Linked DNA regions of Homo sapiens: region 2 is linked to region 1. A link means that fine-mapping ties the variant in region 1 to the expression of a gene that starts in the linked region. Tissue or cell type: nasal epithelium. Region 1 holds a variant in brackets; the other region holds the start of a gene. All regions are shown on one strand. Distances are from middle to middle.

Region 1 (8,190 bases):
CTGTATTTTGCAAAAATGGCCAAAGCAATATTTTCAGTCTCACATGGTTGTCCAGAAACTTGCTACCCCCTATCAAAAGTTAGAATCTGGCCGGGCGTGGTGGCTCATGCCTGTAATTGCAGCACTTTGGGAGGCCGAGAAGGGTGGATCGCCTGAGGTCAGGAGTTCGAGACCAGCCTGGCCAACGTGGTAAAACCCCATCTGTACTAAAAATACAAAAATGAGCCGGGCGTGGTAGCGCATGCCTGTAATCCCAGCTACTTGGGAGGCTGAGGCAGGAGAATTGCTTGAACCCAGGAGGTGGAGGTTGCAGGGAGCTGAGATGGCGACATTGCACTCCAGCCTGGGCGATAAGAATAAAATTCCACCTCAAAAAAAAAAGAGAGAATGTATTTTCCCTCCCCTTGAACATGGGTGGGACATTGTGACAGCCTGTGGAATAGAGTGTGGTGGATGTTAGGTTCATGATTTCTGAAGCTAGTTCATAAAAGACAATATAGTGTCCACTAGGATGTGTTAGGATGCTTATCTTTGAAATCAGCCACCATGCTGTGAGGGAGCCCAAACTAGCTCACACGCAGAATCCCATAGGGAGGAACCGAGATCCCCAGCCAACAGCCAGCATCAACCACCAGACATGTAAGAGAACAAACTTTAGATGATCCCAGGCCATGTACTTGAGTTTCCTCCTAGTTAAGACATCATGGAGCAGAGCCCTTCTCTGCTCAGCTTGCTAAGGAGGATGCAGATAACAGAGTCTCTTACCTCTGTCACCTGCCTGAATTTCCAGTCCACAAAATCAGCACACAAATGGTTGCTTTACATACTCACTAAGTTTTGGGGTAATATTTGATGCAGTCATAGAAACTGGAACACTCCCCCACTGAGCCACAGACTTCTTGAGGAGAGAGACTATTTTTTTCCTCCTTAGCAAGCTGAGCCCAGGAGCCCTCAGGGTCTGGGTCGTGACCAGTCCTTCCTTAAGGACATCCACCTCCCTTTCTGTCATGTTAGAGTGCCTCTATGCTCTGGGAGGCCTGGACTTCTGAGATGCGCAATGTTTGTAATTCATTGATTCTGTCAACAAATATTTATTGAATATTGGGGGCAAAATGCTAGGACCGAGATAAGAACAAGCCAGACGGGGTGACTGCCCCCGGGGGCTTACAGTCTAGGTGGAGGTGTGGGGGGGAGATTACAAAATGAATCCAAATTGTGATGCTTACTGTTACAGGAGGAGCACAGGGGCCCTATTTGGGTAGAGTGGCTGGCAAAGGCCTCTTCGAGAGAGCGACACTGACTCAGAACGATGAGCGAGCCTCAGGCAGGGTGGGGACAGGCGTGAAGAACACTCCAGGTGGATGGGACAATGACCGCAAAGGCTGTGAGCAGAAGGAACTTGGGATGTTTGGGGAAAATGAAAGAAGGCAAGTGTGGGCCGGGCGAAATGGAACACGCCCGTAATCCCAGCATTTTGGGAGGCCGAGGTGGGTGGATCACCTGAGGTCAGGAGTTTGAGACCAGCCAGGCTAACGTGGTGAAACCCTGTTTCTATTTAAAAAATACAAAAAATTTGCTGGGCATGGTGGTGGGCACCTGTAATCCCAGCTACTCAGGAGGCTGAGGCAGGAGAATCGCTTGAACCTGGGAGGTGGAAGTTGCAGTGAGCCCAGAATACGCCACTGCACTCCAGGCTGGATGACAGAGTGAGACTCTGTCTCAAAAAAAAAAAAAAAAAAAGAAAAAAGGCAAGTGTGGGAGCCTGGTAGGCCAAGGCAGGCTGGAAGCCAGAGATGTGAGAGGGGTGGGCTGTGGCCTGGTAGGCCTCGGAGAATTGCTTGAATTTTCCTCTAAAGGCAGTGGGGAGCCATAGGAGGCTTTCCAGCACATTTGTTTCACTTTGTGAGTTGCCAAATAGCTCCTTGGTCTCACTTTCCAGCACTGGCTGTGCCCAAGCAGAGTGGTGACGGGGCCCCCTGTCAACATTTGTGTTCCCACAGGTCCTTGGTGGGAATGAGGAAATGCTGAGTTTGGTCTCTACAGAGGACACATAGAAGGCAGCCCTCACCTGTGAAACAGACGCACAGGGTAGGCTGGGTTGCCAGGACAGGCAGCATTGGATCTGAGTTACTGGGGAGTGGCCAGTCTGTGGCACATTCTCTCTCTCTTTCTCCCTCTCAATCACACACACACACACACACACACACACACACACACACACACACACACAGCCAAAAGTAGCTAAACAAGAGAAAAGGAGCCTCTGAACAAAGCTGTGGCCTCCGAGTGCCATATCCTTTCTCGCTTAAAAAGCCCCTGGCCCCTCACTGAGAGCTTGCCTGCTCTTACTTTGTGCCAAGCTCTGGCAACCCTGGTTCTCTGCAGTGAGACGCCTGAGGGTTCCCCACACAGGGCTGTACCTGCCTCTCCAGGAGCGGTTCATGCTCTCGGGTTACTTATACTCAGTGTCCCTGGATTAAGAAAGTAGGACATCTGTAGCACGTTTTATAATTGTTTCTATTCAAAATGGATAAGAGAAAATGTTGGTGTTTAAAGCAGCAATAATAAAGATGATGATAACAACCCGTGTTTGTATTTCTTGGTGCGTGCTGTTTGCAGGCACTGTATTCATCTATGACATCCCTGCCACAGGCCCCCGAGCTCTCCAGCTGGGGCAGCTCTCTGATGGAATGCCCCTCTCCTTTAGCGCCCTATCTGCAGGCACACACACACACACACATATACACACACACGCAGCTTCCCAGGAGTGTTCTCATGGATGCACACAGACGCTCCTTCTTACCCTTTCTGAACCCCCCCAAATACAATCCACGTTCTGTGGGAGCAGGAGCTAGGGAGCAGCTGCCCATGGCCCTTTCCCTGCAGGGGCTATGGATGTCAGGAGTGTGATAGCCTCAGAGCCATCCCTGGCATCTGCTTCACTCCAAGGGATGGTGGCCGGGCTGGTAGGAGTGGGGCTTGGGTGCTGCCCCTCGCATACTGTGTGGCAGTCTGTCGGCTCATCTTCAGAGTGTGGTCCCCGTCCCAGCTGTTGCTGCCTGAATTGTGTTTTCCCACGCCCAGGCCTGCCCAAGCTGTCACCAGCTGTGACCAGCTGTCAACCAGTTGTTAGTACTCTGCTTCCCTCCCTGCCACGTGACAGCACTCATCGTCAGCTAGACCCCAGAGGAGTTTTCCGACAGGCAGACTGATAGGCAGATGGCACTCAGTGCCTGAGCACCCTGCAGTCAGGGGGACACCCATGGCGAGACAGCCGTGGAGGTGAGCCAGAGAGACAAACACCCAGAGAGACAGGGATGGAGGCGGGATCACAGAAAAAGAGATCAACCAGAGAGGAGCAGAGCGGCATATGGAGACGGAGAGAAAGCGTGCATGCGTACACACACACGTACACACACACAAGAGAGAGAGAGAGAGACATAGGGAAGGAAGGCCATCCTGGCCAAACAATGTAGCAATAACTCGTTTTCTATCAACTGTGGATCCCGGGAGCCACGGCACCAGGAGTGTTGCTAGTCTGCAGCCCCAATACTCAAAGGGTGGTCCCTGAACCAGGACCAGCAGCATGAGCGTCCCTGAGAGCCTGTTAGAGCCTCGGGCCCACCCCAGGCTATCCGCATCTGCATTTTTACAAGAGCCTAGGCGGTTTATATGCACATTAAGCATTAGAAGCCTACTCCAATCCGAGCTGGCCTCTTGGCTGCAAGAAGTTTGAAGCTGACGTGTGCAGCGTGTACACTTTCTCTCCTGAGTTGTGAACTGAGCCTCAGGAGAAGCCACAATGAAGGGGTGTTCTCTCTGGCTCTGAATAAAGACCAAGGAAGGGGCCTGGCAGCCAGTGTGCTGCCAACTCTGCCCCTACCCTGCCATCCTGGCCCGACCCCCGCCATCCTGCTCCCGCTCCTTGCTTTTGCCCCCACGGTCCTCTCCGTCTACCATGCTGTTGTTTCCTCTTCCAGAAGATCCAGTACTTTGCTTCCTTCCACACCCAGTCTCGGGCTCACCAAGGCAGGAGGCCTTCTTGGGCAGACCCGGAAGATAAAGCTGTTCCCTCTGCTCCCACTGTAATGACAGTCACAGTGAGAATCGCCACCGACAGGCAGCATGTTTTCCACATTCCCAGGCTGCTTTGCTGATTTTTCTCACTCAACTCTCACAGCTGAACCAAATGAAGCCCTATTATTATACCCATTTTACAGAGGCAATCATCAAGACTTAAAGGGTGAATCTGTCCTTCGTTCAACAAATGTTTAGGTGTTTCCAAGTATGTTCCAGTTTAGGGGACCAGCTAATTGAGGAGCCCCACCCCCATCCAGGCTGCAGCTCCCAGATGGTGGACCGCAGAGGCTGGAGCAGGCCATGTGCAGAGGAGGGGGCAGGAGCCCAAGAAGCGTCAGTTGCCTCGCCAGAGATAAGGTTGCTTTGTTCTCCAGGCTGCTTCCTGCACTG[G/A]GGAATTCCATTCTGGCCTGCAGGCAGGTGGCTGCCTCCTCAGTTCTTGCACAATCGGCTCTGAAACATCTAGAATGACAGTTATTATGTATTTATGAACTCAGGATCTTTATGGTTTCACAAACTAGGTCTCCCCCTGAAAGAACCACCCATCCCCAGCTCTCAGTCTTAGCCCCCCAAAGGGCCCGCTCTGCCCTCAGTCTGTCATTGCCTGAAGCTGGGCAGGGTGCAAGCGTTCCCCACTGGAGACCTGCAGGGTGGCCCTGGACAGAGAGATAGGAATGCCAAGGGACGCCCCTAGCCCTGGGACCCGCAGGCCTGGGGTGGAGAGAGAAGACACCTCTTATCCTCCTATCATCTGGGCCTCCTAAGCCAAGTGGCTTTACCCGTTTGGAACTCAGTTTTGCAGGCTGTAAATGCGGACAATGGTCCCAGCACTGCCTACCTACCGTGCTAGGGGATTCTGAAGAATGTGAAAATTCTAAAGTGCTGAACACATGGCAGGGCAGTTATCCTGATTCCTGTGGGGCAGGGACAGCCCCCCGCCACCCTCGCTAGAGAAAACCACTTCCAGTTTTTATCTTGTAGATTATATAGGCAGCCATTGCTTAGGGAACAATTTACATTATACTGATCACAATTTCCACTTTTGAAAAATCTTGCTCCTTGTAGAATTTTCTACTTTCTTGTTATTAAGAACAGGCCCTAGCTTGCAAGTGGGAGCTCAATGTAATCTTTAGGGATGTAGTTTGAAAGCTAGAAATGTATGGTAATGAAAAGACCTTTATTACTAACATTTCTGCAGGAAAAATAACTTTATTTTTGCTGGTCTGACACTCTCACAAAAACAGTTACTTGTAGAATATGATTTCTGAGATTTCATATTAACATCTTGCTCCTGATTTTGCAGAACAGCCTTCTTGGCACCCCTCCCAGCAGCCCCATGAGGTAGCTACTGTCTCCATTCTCCTGCTAAGAAAGCCGAGGCCCAGACAGGAGATGTAACTTAGCCAAGATTGCATAGTTGGTAGAAAGGAAGGAATTTGAAGGCAGGACCGTGGGTCTCCAGAGTGATATTTTCCACTGCAATGCTCAACCCGTTCTCTTCTGTAGAGAAGGATCCCTTCACGGCTTCACCCCGATAAATACCAGATGACACAGACAAGCAGAGGTGAGAGAATTCTGTCAACTGTGAAGTCCTACATGTAGGTCAGAGCTTTTTATATCAAAGCTCTAATTTATTACGAGTCATTTAGAGCTTGTTATTTCCTTCACCAACAGAGCCTTGCTTTTACAGAAGGAACCACCGCAGGGTTCCTTGAATAATGAGTGTTTAAGATATTACTAAACACAACTTTCCAGAAGCACAATCTGCCGGAGGGAAGTGAGGGGCACTTTGGGCAGGGAAGTGAAATCTCTGGAACAGTGGATTCTGCACAAGCAGAGGAGACCTACTGAGACCTACTCAAAAGGACAAATGCTTTTGGTTACCCCAGCCTGTTTACAACCCTGCAGCACCAGCTCATTTTTAAAAATCTGTATCTGGCTGTCGGGCACAGTGGCTCATGCCTGTAATCCTAGCACTTGGGGAGTCTGAGGCAGGTGGATCGCTTGAGCTCAGGAGTTCACGACCACCTGGGGCAACAAGGCAAAACCCCGTCTCTACTAAAAATACAAAAAGCTAGCCAGGCGTGGTGGTGTGCATCTGTAACCCCAGCTACTGGGGAGGCTGAGGCACAAGAATTGCTTGAACCCAGGAGGCAGAGGTTGCAGTGAGCCAAGATTGTGTCACTGCACTCCAGCCTGGGCAACAAAGTCAGACTTTGTCTCAAAAAATAAAACATAAATTAAAAATAAAAAATAAAAAAAAAAAACCTGTATCTTATTTATCATCACTTATAGTAAATGGTGTTTATGGTAGGGTCTAACAGAGTTATTATTCCAAGGACACTCAAAAAGTTTTCATAACCTGCCCAAGGTCCTATCTGCAAGCATCTCTTAATAGTCAATGCACAACAATATGGTCTAGCAATTCTACTTCTTGTGTATACACACAACAGAATGGAAAGTAGGGACTGAAACAAATATTTACACACCTATGTGCATAGCAGCATTATTCACAGTAGCCAAAAGCTGTAAGTAACTCAAATGTCCATTAACAGATGAATAGATAAACAAAATATGGTACGTACATGCAATAGAATATTGTTCAGCCTTTCAAAAGGAATTACATGCTAATTACATGCTGACACATGCTATAACATGAATGAACCTTGAAGACATTATGACAAGTAAAAGAAGCTACACACACACACACACAAAGGCAAATACTATATGATTCCACTAATATGATGTACCTAGAGGAGGCAAATTCATAGAGACAGAAAGTCAAAAATGTTGGTTGCCAGTGGCTTGGGAGAGGGGAGAATGGGAAGTTGTTTTTTAAATGGGTATGGAGTTTCTGTTTGAGAAAATAAAAAAGTTCTGGAGATGGATGGTGGTGATGGTTGCATAACGATGTGAATGCACTTAATGTCACTCAACTGTACACCTAGAAATAGAGAAAATGATAAATCTTACGTTATCTGTGTATTACCACGATGCAAAAGCAAAGTCAATGTATAATCTGAATAATAATTCATCTGCCAACTTTACAGATGAAGAAACTGATGTTCAGAGTGGTTAAGTGACTGCTCCCAAGTCAAAAAGCCAGAATCAAAGCTGGGATGCAAGCCAAGGCTTTCTGACAGGTCTCTCTCTGCTTCTGCATGCTGCTTCTTGTCTGAATGCCTTAGTGGCCTCTGCATGGCCTTTGGTGAAAGGATTTTGTTTCTTTTGCAGAAAACAATCATTGAAAGGCATTTAGCCTTGGATCATTAGTTAGGAGCTGCCTCTGGCACAAATTTAGTGCGGCCTCAGCTTAGGCCCTCCCCAGTCTGCACCTCAGCTTCCCCATCGGGCAATGAGGTGGCTGCATTGGTGGTCGGCTTCCAAGGGCACATCCAATCCCCACATTCCATCACTCTTTCATACCACATAGCCTCTCAAACAGAACTGCCTTTAGAAAGAAGCAAAATTCATACGTCAATTATAATTCCCAGTTCTTCTTAGTTTCAATTTCTGCCTGTTGCCTCGTATCATGACAATTTCACCCTCTTGAATTTGCAGAAGTGTGCTCATTTGGTTGATATGCTCACCCTACAAATTCCCCAACCACGTTTTGTTTCGGCAACAGTTGGCTTCAGACCTCATAGTCAGAACTGCCTCTCGTAAATTCTTTATGACTGTTTGGTTTGAAACCTGCAAGGTAAAATCGTCTGAAGGTTATCAAGATTGATACTGCAGGCTTTGTTTTGAAGTCACTCAGTGGGGACAGTTATATGTATCTTATTTTAAAACTTGCAAAGCAAGATCCCTAATGATTTGTTTGTCTCTGCTTCAAAGCTTTACATATTTCTTTTGTCTATTGTCTGATAGGGATTCGTCTGTGATTTAAAACAAACAAACAAACAAACAATTTAGTTGAATTTTTTTTTTAATTCTAAGTGTAGGACCAGCACATGAAAAGTGGCTGACCCAGCAGGATGGGATAAAAGAATAACTCTTACAGAGTGTTTAGGACTTGATCCGTAGAAAGACCACACTTTTATTCAAGTGCAGTGAGTAAAAAAATGGTCCCGTTATATTATCTGGCAATTTATTGTCATTCTGAGAAGGCTA
Region 2 (8,139 bases), 50 kb after region 1:
AACACCTCACATTAGGTCCTGAGACAGGAATAATATAAGGTGGCTGCAGAATAATAGAAGATTTTGGGCAGCAATTTCACATGACTAGCAAAAGGAAACTGTTGAAATGGCTGCAGAGGCCATGGGCTAAGACCGTGAAAAACAGAGTGTAGACCAAGCTGGCTAAGACCCACTGAACCCAGCATGGCACTGGATTTGACCTAGGTTTCTCCTAGGACCTCATTATACGCTCATTAACATACTAAATCACACACCCCACTAGCATCATGACACTTCCGAGAACACCCATATTTGGTTTAAAAATAGGTGGTGTCACAGTTCTGAGAAATCTCCTTCTTTTTCTAGGAATGATCATGAATATTCTGCCTCTTGGTTAAAGAAACCCGTAAAGGTAGCAACCCCAAACCCCCTTTCGTGTGAGTCTCTCGAGTACACCCATATTCCCTTTTCTTGAGTGTGTACTTTTCCCTTTGCAATAAATCGTACTTTCACTATTTTCCAACTGGTCTTTGAATTCATTCTCTTGATGGTGTCAAGAGCCTGGACACTGGCTGGGGTCTAGGTCCCACTGGCATTTGGGGACCTCCCCTCCAACACTGTTGCACTGGGGGTTAAACTTCCAACGTGTTTTTTTTTGGAGGACACATTCAAACCATGGCAGTACTGAACAAAACCTTGGCTTTGAAACCATATGAAGATTTGTTTTGTGTGTGTTCACATAGTTGAAGTATTTCAACATTTTTAAGAGGGATTTTCAGGCTTCTCTATAAGCAGACTAAGAATCAGCATTAGCATGTTTTCTCCATGTACAAAGTCTTTTATCTTTCTACTTACAAATGAAGGTAACCAATAAATATTTGTTGAATTTTATCATTCTGTTAACCTTCAGATTCAGACTTGTCAGTAATTACTGGCTTGCATTAAAAGCAGGAGATTAGAGATTGAGGTCCAGGAAGTATAAATGATTTGCTCAAAGGCATGTAGAGTAACCAGGTCTCCTGTCCCTCTGTCCCCCTTTTCTGCTACACCTTGTCCCTCGACAAAGGGTGAATGACCTAGTGATGGTCATTCATCTGAGGAGAAAGGACAAAGGTAGGACTTTGAATCGGAGCAACTGAACCCATCCTGGCCTATTTTCACAGTCTTGCCACAGAAGATCTGGCCACCTTAGAAGGACTCATTCAGTGATCTTGGTCTTGAATAATACCATGAGTACTTACTATATACAGGTACACTGCTGTGCCGTAAGGATTCCCTCTGGAGCAAAACTGACCCAGGTCACAGGTTAGTGAGGGAGACTGAGCCTGTCTTCCACAGTGTCACGGAAGTGAGCACTAAACAAATACTCCCAGGCATGGATCATTACAAATGGAGGTGAGTGCTGGACAGGAAAGGACAGGATGCTAGGCGAGAATTCAGCAGGAGGGCTTGGTGGCGATTAGGGGGCTAGGGAAAAGCAGAAGTGGGGCTGTAAAAGGCTTTTGCAAAGATGAAGGCTTTTACATTTGTGAGGGAAATAACAATAATAAAGGTGCTTGGAAGGGCTGCTCATCCGCATTCATGGGCCTCTTCCTAGAACTCTGGGAATCTTTCTCCCTAGAGCTCTGTAGGCGTCCAGGGTCAGGGCTGGAAAGGCCTTCACAAATGCTAATCTGTGAGCATTTTATGGGTTGCCCCCTGACCCTCAGCATCCTCCTCCTTAACTAGATCCAATGGTGAGGTGAAGAGGTGGGGGCGATGGAGAATGGCATTTCCAGTTTGGAGAAAAAAGTAGGGAGAGGCGGGGAAGCCTTCCCACCCCAATCCCAGGGCCAGGTTCCCCTCTCTCCAAACAAGCCTAAGGAATGTTTTTCAAGGCAAAATCCCACCTCACTGTGTATTTGGTTGTGAAGGGGGCTGTCCAGGAGATCAGGGTTGTTTTTGGAGAGTTTGGAGGGCAGGGGCAATAATGTCTGACCCCCTGCAAACAAATACACCTGTAAGAAAAGCTAGACCAGAGTGAAGTAAAGCCAGGATTTGATGGTGGCGGGAAGGGAAGGGGCCAATGCTGCTGCTGGACAGAGGGGTGTTATTTTCCCCAGAAGAATAGCATGTCGTGGTCATCATCATAATAATAGCTGACACAACTATTATGGGCTGGGGACTTATAAGAGCTTTCATAACTCTCAGGTAGGAGGCACTACGAACTCCATTTCACAATTGAGGAAACTGAGGCACAAAGAAACGAAGTAGTGACAGCAGCTTTCCTTTTTCCCTTCAACAGTTTGGAATCAAGCTGTTTGAGCCGAGGCTGGGTCTCAGGAGGTGTGGACAGCACTTCCATCTCGGTAAATCAGATTCGCCTGCCCATAACTGGGGAGAATGGTGGCTTTGAAAAGGTTAACTTGGGAGCCCTGGGGACGGCTGCAGGGAACGTACGCCCATTCCCCCTAGGAAGCAGAGCCAGGCCGCCTCCTCCTCCGCAGTGGTGAGGACGCGTGGACAGTCCCGCGGGGGCGGCGGGAGACCTGCGGAGTGGCCGCACTCCAGGTCCGCGCCAAGGCCGGGCAGCTCCGCTTTCTGCTCAGTCTCCGCGAGGTGTCGCCTTCGGCCGAAGAAACCACCGCGGCGCCACCCTCGTAGCTCGCACTTATTTATTTATTTATTTTCAAACAAGGGGGGCGCCCCTCTTCTTTCAATTTGAAACTGGAAACATCCAGAGGTCTTGTTCCTAAGGGGGCGCGTCCTCTCCCTGCTATTTTGCACCTTCGGACTAGCCTTCTTTCGTAATTACACAGGAGCAACCTCCCTGCAAGGCCTTGCTCAACGTTGGCCTCGCGCTCAGCTGCACAACACGCAGTCAAAGCGGGGGCTGGGTTAGAAGCATCGGTCTCCCCTCCCCAACACACACCCCCGGAGCCCTCCGTAATTTTTTTTTCTTTTAATGACAAGCAATTGCCAGGCTCGCAGGGTGGGTGCTGCATTGCACCGCTCCGCGCGCAGCTGGTTCTCAGAGTGCAGCCGGTGCAAGCCCGGGGGTCCAAAAGGGCGGGAGGAGCACACCCTGGGCTTCCCAGCTTTGCAGCCTTCTCTCTGCAAAGAAAAGCAAGTGGCTTTTGGCGCGAAAGCCTTGGCGCCTCCCCTGATTTTTATGGAAATCAGGAGGGCGGGGTAAAGCCGCTTTCCTCTCCTTTCTCCCTCCCCCTTGTCTGCGCCACAGCCCCCTTCTCTCCCCGCCCCCCGGGTGTGTCAGATTTTTCAGTTAATAATATCCCCCGAGCTTCAAAGCGCAGGCTGTGACAGTCATCTGTCTGGACGCGCTGGGTGGATGCGGGGGGCTCCTGGGAACTGTGTTGGAGCCGAGCAAGCGCTAGCCAGGCGCAAGCGCGCACAGACTGTAGCCATCCGAGGACACCCCCGCCCCCCCGGCCCACCCGGAGACACCCGCGCAGAATCGCCTCCGGATCCCCTGCAGTCGGCGGGAGGTAAGGAGCAGGGCTTGCAAACCGCCCGGCGCCCAGGGAAGCGACGAGCGCCGGGGCAAGGCAAGCCCTGGACGGGATTGCGACGTGCGCACCGGGCGCCCTAATATGCCCGGGGGACTGTTTCTGCTTCCGAAACAAAACCATCTCTGGGTTTTCCCAGAAAAGCCAGTTCCAGCCCCGAAGGCATCCTGGCTAGAGGAGACCCGCCCTAATCCTTTTGCAGCCCTTACCGGGGGGAGTAATGGCTTCTGCGAAAAGAAATTCCCTCGGCTCTAGAAGATCTGTCTGTGTTTGAGCTGTCGGAGAGCCGGTGCGTCCCCACCCCAGGCTGGGGTTCTTCTCCAAAGGGTGCCCCTGGAGGAAGAAGAGGGGGGGATTAGGCAGGGCGAGGCCGCCGCGGTCGCAATCTGGGTCACGGCTGCTCCAGCTTGGAGGAGAGGCGGCTCTCCCGGCGACCCTCCTCGCGCGGGCGCCCCTGCCATTCCCGGGAACAGGGGCTCAGCCTCTCCCTCCCTGGAAGAGGACGTTGTCGTGGGTTTGGAAGAGCAGGGGTGGGCTTAGAGAGCTTCCAATTAAGCTATTGGCAGGAGTATCCCTGCAGCGGGTGAATGCCGAGGGGCGTTTGCTCAAATTTGGGGAGGGGAAGGATTTGTGGATATGGGTGTCTGTTGTTGGTCTCTGTCTAGAGAAAGGCTTTTTTTTATTTGCAAAGTTTTCTAAATCCCCTGCTATCATTTGCACTCCTGAGGTTGCATTTTTACAAAGGGGGTAGAAGGTACTCCAAATACCATTCCCGGTAGCTGGGTCGGAGAGCCTGGGGCTTCCCCTGAGCAGCCGGCCCCACACCGCTGCGAGTGCGGTTGTCTGCGTGCTCGTGAGAGCTAGAATTCTGCAGCCAGGAACAGCCCCCTCCCCCAGGCAGTGCCTTGTGTGAATGAAATGGCAGTTTCCAAAGTTGCGGAGCCTCGCCACCACCCCCTGCATCTGCATGCCCCCTCCCACCCCCTGTCGTAGACAGCTTGTACACAAAAGGAGGGCGGGAGGGAGGGAGCGAGAGGCACAACTTCCTCCACCTTCGGGAGCAGTGGGCAGAGTGGGGGGCTTGGAGGGAAGATTGGGGAACCTGGTTAGAGGGGGCGCCCATTGCCTATCCCCTCGGTCTGCCCCGTTTGCCCACCCTCTCCGGTGTGTCTGTCGGTTGCAGTGTTGGAGGTCGGCGCCGGCCCCCGCCTTCCGCGCCCCCCACGGGAAGGAAGCACCCCCGGTATTAAAACGAACGGGGCGGAAAGAAGCCCTCAGTCGCCGGCCGGGAGGCGAGCCGATGCCGAGCTGCTCCACGTCCACCATGCCGGGCATGATCTGCAAGAACCCAGACCTCGAGTTTGACTCGCTACAGCCCTGCTTCTACCCGGACGAAGATGACTTCTACTTCGGCGGCCCCGACTCGACCCCCCCGGGGGAGGACATCTGGAAGAAGTTTGAGCTGCTGCCCACGCCCCCGCTGTCGCCCAGCCGTGGCTTCGCGGAGCACAGCTCCGAGCCCCCGAGCTGGGTCACGGAGATGCTGCTTGAGAACGAGCTGTGGGGCAGCCCGGCCGAGGAGGACGCGTTCGGCCTGGGGGGACTGGGTGGCCTCACCCCCAACCCGGTCATCCTCCAGGACTGCATGTGGAGCGGCTTCTCCGCCCGCGAGAAGCTGGAGCGCGCCGTGAGCGAGAAGCTGCAGCACGGCCGCGGGCCGCCAACCGCCGGTTCCACCGCCCAGTCCCCGGGAGCCGGCGCCGCCAGCCCTGCGGGTCGCGGGCACGGCGGGGCTGCGGGAGCCGGCCGCGCCGGGGCCGCCCTGCCCGCCGAGCTCGCCCACCCGGCCGCCGAGTGCGTGGATCCCGCCGTGGTCTTCCCCTTTCCCGTGAACAAGCGCGAGCCAGCGCCCGTGCCCGCAGCCCCGGCCAGTGCCCCGGCGGCGGGCCCTGCGGTCGCCTCGGGGGCGGGTATTGCCGCCCCAGCCGGGGCCCCGGGGGTCGCCCCTCCGCGCCCAGGCGGCCGCCAGACCAGCGGCGGCGACCACAAGGCCCTCAGTACCTCCGGAGAGGACACCCTGAGCGATTCAGGTAAAGACCGAACTCGGGTCCGGCTGCCTCCCTGGGGCACTGGACCCCGGGTCGCGTCCCCTTTGTTAGTGCTCGTATGTCTTGGCCTGGGGAGCATTTTGGAGGCAGTGCTAGGGGCAGAGAGGTCCTGTTTCCCCCAAGTCTCTCCTCGGGGTAAAGAGAAGGGGCTGAGAGAATGCCGTTGCAAAAGGGGTGCTCTCCAATTCTCGCCTTCACTAAAGTTCCTTCCACCCTCTCCTGGGGAGCCCTCCTCTAGGCCATCACGGGCCCTCACCCGGTCCCCCACCTCTCTTTTGCAGCGCAGTCTGAGGAATAAAATTGGAGAAAGTTGGTGGCTAAACCGGGTGGGGGTTTAGGGGGTTGCTGGGTGCACTGCCTGGACAGAAACCTGTTAGCGCAGGGGTGAAAGGGACTCTCTGGCCCAGGTCAGGGGAGGGAAAGACATCCCGAGAAGATTCAAGGGCTGTGCAAAGCCCTGTTTAAGGCGCAGGAACTTATAGGAGGGTTGCACAGATGGCTAGAGCCGATTTTCTATTCTTTTTCTTTTTCTTTTTTTTTTTTTTTCAAATGTCGGTACCTTTCCCTTCCCCCATCCTCGGTGGGTGGTGGGCTATTTGCTCCTGGTGCGTGGCCAGCAGGCGGCGATATGCGAGGCCAGCAGGCGGGCCCGGGATCTGAAAGGCTGGGGGTGGTGGGGGCACCCTCCCTCCCTCCATTCAGCAGCTGGCTGCAAGTGCAACAGCAGTTGTGTACATTCTCAGGGGGCCTCCTCTTTCCAGTGTGCAGTGGAAACTGGCTGTAGTTTTGTCTTCCAGCCTGAATTCCAGGCCTAATTTGAGATGTGAGTTGTATCTGTAACCCAGTGCCCTTGAAGGTGAGGGCAGGCACTCAGCAGCCTCTCCAGGAAGGCTCACATCCTGGGAGGACTCACTGATTAGTTCTATTGTGTTCATTTGTCTGTGTCTTAAGCTGAAGGGAAGAGTTAAAACCAAGCCTTTCCCTGGGGGTCTGGATGAACAGAACTCAACCCAAAGAGTGGCATTGCCTTGTCCTTGGAGCAGGGAGCTGGGACCCCCCTTGGACTTTGAAAACCAGTGTTTTCAGAATGCAGGTGGATAACAAGCCTAAATTTACTTCTGGGCTGAGGAGAGATCTTTGAGGCTCCTGGAAGGAAACTTGGTGATAAGCCTCCAGTTTGAAACGGCTCTGTCCCTTTAATGTCTGTGCCTTGACAGCTTTTGGTGAGGAAGCACTTCCTTCCAACAGCTGTCTTCTTGGCAGAAAACCAAAACATTGGCTTAAAGGGACCCACAGACTGGAACAGCCTCACATTTCGGCTTTAGAACAAATCCCACAATTGTTCAGCTTTCCGGTCCCCTTCAGATCAAGCAGAAGATATGTTTTGATTTTCATGCTTGTATTTTAAACAATAATTTTCTACCCCAGCGTGGTAGTCAATGAGGAGAGAGGGGAAGAATGCGCACATGATGCTACACGTTTCTGTTGTTGCTGTTATTATTGGTGGCTTTGAGGAGAGCTGCTCCCATTTGGGGGTTTATACCAACTGTGGATTATGGCTTTGTCATTAAGATTTGATCTTTGTTAAATGAAAAACTGTTTATTGTATAAAACTCAGGTTTGTGGACGAAAAGTTGTTTTTTTTCTTCAGTTAATTAAATTGTTCCTCAAGTTTGTTTAAGGACTTAAAATCAAACACAACCATGTGTAAACTGCTAAATGAGGCTCCTAAAATGAGAGGCCTCAACTCTTTAAGTGTGGAGCTAGAAATGTAAATAAGTCCACAGGGCAGACTGGTGATTATGATAAAAGCTACCATTTACTGAGCATCTGTCTACTAGGCTCAGCTCTATGCTAAGTCTACATGTTATCTGTCAAAGTGGTATCATCCCCATTTAATAGCTGAGGAAACAGAGGCTTAGAAAGGCTGGGTAACTTGACCAGGGTCATGCAACTAGTCTGCGGTGGAGCCAGGATTCTGTCTGACCCTAAAGGCCAAGTTCTTTATATTTATTTCTACCACCTGCTAAAGTCTTGAATGGAGGCTGAAAGCACAGTTGGGGTATGGGGAAGAAAAATATATATACATACATATATGTATATGTATGTATGTATGTATGGGGGGTTGTTTTGTTTTTGTTTTTGATAAGGAGTTTTGCTCTTGTTGCCCAGGCTGGAGTGCAGTGGTATGATCTGGGCTCACTGCAACCTCCGCCTCCCGGGTTCAAGTCATTCTCCTGCCTCAGCCTCCCGAGTAGCTGGGATTACCGGAGCATGCCACCACACCCAGCAAAGTTTTGTATTTTTAGTAGAGACAGGGTTTCACCATGTTGGCCAGGCTGATCTTGAACTCCTCATCTCAGGTGATCTGCCCGCCTCCGCTTCCCAAAGTGCTGGGATTACAGGTGTGAGTCACCGCGTCCGGCCTACAGATATATTTAATTTAAAGAGATCTAAAACAAATACAAAACTGTCCACATCTATGTTGATGGACCCATAAAAATAGCAGTCTGCCAGGGTCTGCCGGAAGAGACAGATAAGCATAC

Evidence for each region. PIP is the estimated chance that this variant, and not a neighbour inherited with it, causes the effect.
Region 2: MYCN starts here. The variant in region 1 is fine-mapped to the expression of MYCN in nasal epithelium (TOPMed, PIP 0.97).

Annotation. Positions count from the first base shown.
Region 1 is chr2:15,886,895-15,895,084 of GRCh38, forward strand. No RefSeq gene overlaps it. Among named protein-coding and RNA genes, the nearest start is that of MYCNUT, 29 kb to the right of the region's middle. RefSeq lists an enhancer at 3,464-4,085. The variant G/A (reference allele first, on the strand shown) is at 4,471.
Region 2 is chr2:15,937,280-15,945,418 of GRCh38, forward strand. MYCN (MYCN proto-oncogene, bHLH transcription factor) reads left to right here and starts at 3,271. Exons shown (of 3, transcript NM_005378.6): 1 at 3,271-3,464; 2 at 4,669-5,575. The coding sequence starts at 4,786. MYCNOS (MYCN opposite strand) reads right to left here and starts at 4,406. Exons shown (of 4, transcript NR_110230.2): 1 at 4,253-4,406; 2 at 3,695-3,818; 3 at 1,221-1,446. RefSeq lists enhancers at 1,267-1,824, 2,869-3,399.